2 linked regions of the Homo sapiens genome follow. The protein of the gene in region 2 purifies or fractionates together with the protein of the main gene of each other region. This does not show direct contact. Each region holds a gene or a part of one and is shown on either strand. Other genes may lie near its edges. The genes, in order: COA7 and PDK4.

The links.
Region 1: the proteins of PDK4 (region 2) and COA7 purify together in Homo sapiens (affinity purification with mass spectrometry; 2 studies listed by BioGRID and IntAct, with this or other methods). This does not show direct contact.

The regions. Positions count from the first base shown.
Region 1 is NC_000001.11:52,684,748-52,688,347, forward strand, and holds part of COA7 (cytochrome c oxidase assembly factor 7), read right to left. Parts: intron 3,422-3,600; coding exon 2,973-3,421; 3' UTR 1-2,972. UniProt on the Homo sapiens protein: Required for assembly of mitochondrial respiratory chain complex I and complex IV.
Region 2 is NC_000007.14:95,594,530-95,598,654, forward strand, and holds the start of PDK4 (pyruvate dehydrogenase kinase, isozyme 4), read right to left. Parts: upstream 1,988-4,125; 5' UTR 1,765-1,987; coding exon 1,635-1,764; intron 636-1,634; coding exon 494-635; intron 1-493. UniProt on the Homo sapiens protein: Kinase that plays a key role in regulation of glucose and fatty acid metabolism and homeostasis via phosphorylation of the pyruvate dehydrogenase subunits PDHA1 and PDHA2.

The sequences.
Region 1 (3,600 bases), on a different chromosome or scaffold from region 2:
TGCCCTAAAAATCTTCTGTGCTCCAATTATTCCTCCCTCCCCTCCCCCACCCACTGCTTTTTACTGTCTCCATAGTTTTGCCTTTTCCAGAATACATCCCAGTGTCATATAGTTGGCATCATTTAATATGAAGCCTTTTCAGACTGGCTTCATTTAGTAGCATTCATTTAAGTTCCTCTGTGACTTCTTATAGCTTGATAACTCATAATTTGTCATAGCTTGATTTAAGCACTGAATAATGACTACATGCACCACAATTTATTTACCCATTTACCTACTGAAAGACATTTTGGGTTGAGTTTTGGCAATTATAGATAAAGCTGCTATAAACATCCATGTGCTGGTTTTTGTGTGGACATGTTTTCAGTTCCTTCAGGTAAATACTAAAGAGCAAGATTGCTGGATCACATGGTAAGAGCTTACCTAGTTTTTGTAAGAAACTGCTTAACTGTCTTCCAAAGTGGCTGTGCCATCTTGCGTTCCCACCAGCAAGGAATAAGAGTTCTGGTTGCTCCAACTTTCCCAGCATTTCATGCTGTCGGTGCTTTGGATTTTGGCCATTCTAATAGTTGTATAGTGGTCTGTTGTTCTAACTTGCATTTTCCTGATGACATGTTATATGGAACATCTTTTCATATGCTTATTTGCCACCTGTCTATCTTCTTTGCTGAGATATGTTAAGGGTTTTGGCCTGTTTTTAATCAGGTTGTTTTCTTACTGTTGAATTTTAAGAGTTCATTGTGGTTTTTGATTTACATTTCCCTAATTAGTGATGTTGAACATATTTTCATGTTTTTTGACCTACAGTTTTGTGTGTGTGTGTGTGTGTGTTTTTTTGAGACAGAGTCTCACTCTGTTACCTGGCTGGAGTGCAATGGCATGGTCTTGGCTCACTGCAACCTCCACCTCCTGGGTTCAAGCGATTCTCCTGCCTCAGCCTCCTGAATAGCTGGGACAACAGGTGCCCACCACCACACCCAGATAATTTTTGTATTTTTAGTAGATACGAGGTTTCACTATGTTGGCCAGGCTGTTCTCGAAATCCTGACCTCGTGATCCGCCTGCCTCGGCCTCCCAAAGTGCTGGGATTGCAAGCGTGAGCCACTGCACCTGGCCTAGTTTTGTTTTTGTTTTTGAGACAGAGTCTTGCTGTGTTGCCCAGGCTGGAGTGCAGTGGCACAGTCTCAGTTTACTGCAACCTCTGCCTCCCAGGTTCAAGTGATTCTCCTGCCTCAGCCTCCGAAGTAGCTGGGATTACAGGTATGCATCACCACGCCCAGCTAATTTTTATATTTTTAGTAGAGAAAGGGGTTTCGTCATGTTGGCCAGGCTGATCTCGAACTCCTGACCTCAAGTGATCCACCTGCCTTGGCCTCCCAAAATGCTAGGATTACAGGCATGAGCCACCACGCCTGGCCTGACCTAGTTTAAGCACACCAAAAGCTACTTTACATTTTTAAAAAGTGAATTTGATGTCTTTTGAAATCTCCTCTGTGCACTTGGGGAAGTCCCTGTCCTCTATCAACTTGAGAGGCTGGCTGCTGTGCTCACAAGCCTTCATTTACACAGCAAGCCTTCCTTTCAGGACGGCTGCAAAACGGAAGCCTAAAACAGTAGATGGTGACAGAATGGTATTGTTACCAGCAGGGAAATGGCAAGCTCGCCCCCTGGTGACAAGCTGGGGAGACAACAGAAAAAGCAAATTTTTTTTTTTTTTTGAGACGGAGTCTCACTCTATCGCCCAGGCTGGAGGGCAGTGGCGCAATCTCAGCTCACTGCAAGCTCCGCCTCCCGGGTTCAAGCAATTCTCCTGCCTCAGCCTCCCCAGTAGCTGGGACTACAGGCGCCTGCCACCACGCCCGGCTAATTTTTTGTATTTTTTAGTAGAGATGGGGTTTCCCCGTGTTAGCCAGGATGGTCATGATCTCCTGATCTCGTGATCCACCCGCCTTGGCCACCCAAAGTGCTGGGGTTACAGGCGTGAGCCACCGTGCCCGGCCACAAATGTTCTTAAAAGGCACAACCACCACAAAGAACATACTCTCTACGGTACCTGGAATCTGGAAAGAACACTAATTAACACAAACCGTAGGTCACTCAAAATTGTTCATTCACAGGGACAGTTAAAAAGGCTCAGTTCCAGGGGACAAATGTGTCACAAAGTCCTTGCTTACAAACTCCTAGCTGAAGCTGCCTTGGGAAGAATCTGCTCCCTCAGCATGATGGGCAGTGCCAGGCGACTACACTGGAGGTGCTAATTTTTAACTGCCAATGTCTCTTCTAGACGATGGCAGGCTGATGTTTCATCTTCTTCAGCAACCCTGAAGCATAACAGCCTTTAAGCTGTATGTTGCACGTCCCTCTTGATCTCTGTGAATTTACTGAAAGATGTGACTCTAAAGGCAAAACGAAGCCCACACCAATGATTATGTAAGTCAGAGGGTGGTAGTTGTGACTATTTAACTGTTCTTAGTTCTTTAAGACCTCAATTACGTAAACCAAGATACGTTCTGATTTTCAAGCCATCCTAACCAAAATAATAATGATGAAAATGATGACAGCTGATTCCTTTAGGCCCCGGGGCTGCTAATTTTTCAAACTTCCTGCTATCCTCCCTTCCCTACTACCAATCTCCAGGGCTCTCTAGTTTGCTCCTATTTTTCACAGAGTTGCCAGAGTTTGAAAACTAAGACCCCCATAAACATGGCTATCTTCACAGAACATCCAGATGAAGGAATATTGACTGTAATAAACATTGTACAGAACACCCAGATAAAGGAATATTGACTGAAATAAACATTGTAGGCTATACTCCAGTAGCTGGGGCAATGGATCCATGTAAATGGAGCTACAAATTCAAGTCCCAAGTTTTTTTGCTCCAGCAGGTTGACCTTCAAGGGCTGCATCAGTCTTCAGAAACAGGAGCTGCCAGCCTCAAGCAGTTTGTTGCCTGGGAGGGAGGGTGGACCACATTACCCAAATGTTAAGGGTTGGACACCTTTCTGCTGTTCTTTGTGTAGCTGCTGGGCTCGATTTTTTAGCACCTCGGCCTTGGCCTCATCCTTATCAACACCATCCCCCAGCTTGTACATGCGACTGGCATTGGCACAGGCCCAGATATGACCCAGGTCACAGGCTTTCATGGAGTATTTACATGCCAGGTCCATGTCCTTGGGAAAGCCTGGGGCACCCTGCAGGAACATGGCACTGAGGTTGAAGCAACTGGAAGTATAGCCACCATCACAGGCCCTTGTGTAGTAGTCCCTGGCCTTTCCCAAGTCAGGCTGGCCATCCTCATTAACCTGTCCATCATGTGCCAGGAGGCCAACGTTGTGACATGCTGCTATTGACTTCTTTCCAGGCTTCTCACACGCCATCAAAAAGCACCTGGCGGCAGCTTTCAGGTCCTGGGTCAGACCACCTGAGAGGAAGGAAAGTAGGAAAAAATAAACCCAAGCCAGGGCACAACCTAAATGTCTCAGGCCAAAGTCAGTGAATTTTTTTTTTTTTTTTGGAGAAAGGGTCTTGCTTTGTTAACCAGGCTGGAGTGCACTGGCATGATCACGGCTCACTGCAGCCTCAACCTCCGGCTAAAGCAAT
Region 2 (4,125 bases):
CTCAATGGCATAAAGAGTTTAAGACACTTGCCAAGGATTCCACAACTAGAAGTGACAGAGGCAGGATTTGAACCCAGAGCCCACTCTGTCAATCACTTTGTAAGTTACAAAGATTAGGCCTTCCCTAAATAGCAGTCATGTGAATTGGTTTCTAGGCATAGGATTTCTTTTGCAATATCAAACTCTTTTATTATTGAAAGTGCTCTTCTATAATTGAAAATTAAAATTGCATGCCAATTTTTTTCAAATTTTTCCTAGAACTCAAAATTTTATTATAAAGTAATCTACTTTTTCAGGGTAAAAATGTCTGTTTATAGTTTTATAACTTCTCTAATGATAACTTACCCTAAATTAATTTTAAAATTCTTACATCTTTCAAAAGTAGTTACCATTCAGATCACCTGTTTTCCAATTATGATGTTAACATAGTATAAGAATTCATACCCGGGTAACTGTTTCAAAACTAGAGACTTCAATATGGTTCACCACTTACCAGCTTTTAACCAATTGCACTGAAGAGGTATTTACTAATTGGGTCGGGAGGATATCAATTTCCTTCAGAATGTTGGCGAGTCTCACAGGCAATTCTTGTCGCAAAAATGCAAAAGAAGTTCTTTCACATGCATTTTCTGAACCTATAATAAATGAAATCAATTTAGTTTTGAGAAAAAGTGTGTCTAAATGATATATCTAAATAGCATTAACTATCAAATATTGAACACACATATATTATAAAATTATATTTCACTCTCAGTTGGGTTACTGTTAATCGATAATTCAGGGGCGATTGTCTCCTTAATTGACTAATTCCCTTCGTCCTTTCGTCTTTCCTTCTTTCTTTTAAAAAGTGACAGATATAGGAGAATTATTGTCTTCTCTTTTTGAAGAGGATTCACTTCCAAGAAGTAAGAATATCCCACAGTTCTTAGAATTTATAAAAGACTGCAGGATTCGGTCACACCACAATGTCAACAACACAACATCCTTTAATGAGTGGGGACATGGAATTGGAGTTGGGGGATAAGAGGCTGGAGGGGGAGCTGTGATATTTCCAGAGTAGTGATATCACATTTAAACCCTTGAAATCTTCCTTATAAGATTACTGCAACAAATGTGTAAATATTTTCAGCAACAATGCAAATATATGGAAAACTATAATGATAAAGAGACAAAGAAATCTGTCAGGAATGCAGAGAGATGTACCCTGTGGAAGGATGCCAGGTGGCTAAGGAATAAAATCTGTTAATTTGAGGCTATTTAATACTATTCAGAAACTTCTCCAAGCAGTACTATGCTGTGAAGGAGAGGATAAAGTTTCCAGTCCATTGTTAAACGGTGACCGAAAGCAAAAAGTATTTTGACTGGAAGAGCGGGTCAGAAAGAAGAGTGTGCAGATGAAGTCAAACCATCCAGCGTCGGCAGGCTTGCAGGTGGCCTTGACCTGGAGGCACCCCTGTCAGAAAGTAACCAAATCTAGGAAAAGGAAAGGTGTGCTGGCGTCGAGGCTCCAGGGCTCAGCAGCAAAGTGAACCCCAGTTGTTTTAGCTTGAGCCTAGCCCTCCCTCTACCAAGGCTGAAAGTTAAGGCAGTTCCCCAACCCTAGGACCCAGCTTGGGCCCTGTGTCCCCTCTCACCAAAGTCCAGTAGCTGCTTCATGGACAGCGGGGACGGGCTGTAGCGCGAGAAATGCTCCACCTCTCGGGGCACCAGGCCGGCGCCGTTGAGCGAGCCAGCGCTGCGCAGCACGAAGCGGGCCGCCTTCATCTTGACGCCCACCCGGCCTGGCGGGGACTGTGGCTGGCTTGAGGGGCGAAGGCTGCTCGGAGCAGAGCCTGGTTCCGAGGGGGCGCGGCGCGTCCGGGCGAGGACTGCAGGTGCGCTGGCTGGCTTGTGCGCCCCGGCCTGGGCTGGGGTTTGAGGGTGCCGCGGAGTGAAGAGTCTGGGCAGAGTCGGAGATGCAGTGGTTCGAGATTCAAGTTCAAGTCTTCCCACCAGCCGCCGCCGCCCGAGGTTTTATTTGTCTCCCCGCACTCTCCCCCCGAGTCCCAAACAGGAGGAGTCACTGGAACTTGGAAACGCGTCCTGAACTCCAGGTCGCGCCAATCAGATCAGAGAAAGAACTATGGGCTCCGCCCCTCCAGCCGCGGTCATCACAGAATGGCCTGGCACGGTGACCACGGAGTGCCCTGGCACCGGTGCCCGCGGCTGTGACGGAAAAAGGGTGGGAAGAACAGGGAAGAGGAAGCAGAAACAGGTATCTGGGGCAACGTGGGCTTAAGATTAGCCTCTTGGGACGGGGCTCCGAGTCGCGTGGGCTGGGGTCCCGCCCAGGCTCGCCCTTGTTTACAACTCGGAGGCTGTCTCAATGTCAAGTACTCCTGGCCACAAACTGTTTCCAAGAGTTTGGACTCCGCGTGCTCATTGGTCCTTGCTCAGAGCAGGGCTTTTACAGTAGCCAACAAGCTGCGTTCAAAAGTATGGGCTTCTCTGCCACTGGACAGAGAGAAAGGAATAAACAACCTAAAGACCTGCGCCCCCACCCCCACCGCCCCCTTTTCTTCAGAAGAGACCGGCACATGGCAGGAACTGTACGTTCCTTTTGCTGAGACTTGAGGGGCTGCCCAGATACATTTACTTTTTCCTGTGGTAATAAAAGGCCATCAATTCGTTCTTCTCCGGCAACACATTCTTTCCGTTAGGTTTAGTTCTGTTAATTAAAAACAAAATTAAAAAGGGATCAATTTGTCAGTTTGCCTTACCTTTTGCGGTGATCAGAGAATTTGTTCACTCTGCCCTGTACGAAATGTCCTTACTCCAAATCTTTACCTAAGACATTCCATTCTACCCTCAAATGTCTGGCACAAGCTGTCTGCTGCAAAAGGTCTTCCTTGATTACTTCTCCTCACTTCTTCCAAATAAGGCCTTGGTCTTTCATGGTACTATTCTATAGCTATTTATGTTTTTATATTATCCCTCTCTGACTCCCCCCTTTCCTGAAAGAGATCAGGGTAGGGACCCTGTCTGATGCAGCTTTGTGATTCCTACTTTTTCACTACTCAATATTTATTAAATTAATGACAGTGGTTGAGACACATTACCCTGTCATACTAACCTCCTTTTCCTCTCCCGACACTCTAAAAGGACTAGGGAATGAAGCCACCGTGTTTGGGAAAGTTGGGAGTAAGAGAGTTGGTTACAAATGTAATAGAATGGGAATTTATGAGGTGTTAAAAATGATAGTTTGTTATAAAAAACCTTTTTGGCCTCCTCCCCCTGCGTTTATTTTATTTTAATTAATTAATTAATTACTTTATTTATTGAGACAGAGTCACACTGTCTCCCAGGCTGGAGTGCAGTGGTGCCATCTCGGCTCACTGCAACCTCGGCCTCCCAGGTTCAAGCGATTCTGCTGCCTCAGTCTTCTGAGTAGCTGGGATCACAGGCACACGCCACCACACTCAGCTAATTTTTTCTATTTTTGGTGAAGATGGGGTTTCTCCATGTTGGCCAGGCTGGTCTCAAACTCCTGACCTCAAGTGATCCACCCACCTCGGTCTCCCATAGTGCTGGGATTACAGGAGTGAGCCATTGCGCCCAGCCTGCCCTGCATTTATAAGCAGAACGGGCAACTCTGAAAGTCATGAGTGATCCTAGGCTCTGCTGTCATCCTTTGCCCTCTTCGTCTAGGAGACTGCATTAAATCACAGGACAGATTTCCAATTCTATCTCTAGCACAAACTTTCTTCCAAGAGCCAGATTCTCCTATTCAATTGCCTATTTGGTTTCTCCATTTGGATGTCTAATAGGTATCAATTTTGCTTCTCTAAAATCAACACCATTATGAGGGATCTGAAACAGTCCTGGCAAACCCTGTGTCAGTTATGTGGCCTGTTTGGAGGCACCATATTAGCTCTCCTACTATTTCTCCCATTGTCTATACATTACCTATAGATGGTCGAGAATTTGAGACTTCCTGTTATGACCAAATATTTTTTTCAGACCTTTGAGAAACAGCTATGTGAAGACATGCAATATTTATGATCTTCCAATGAAGAGGATGGGGCCTGGGTTCTTAGAGAATATTCAAGGATGATCCAAGTATAGACTCTAGCAGTTGCACTTGAG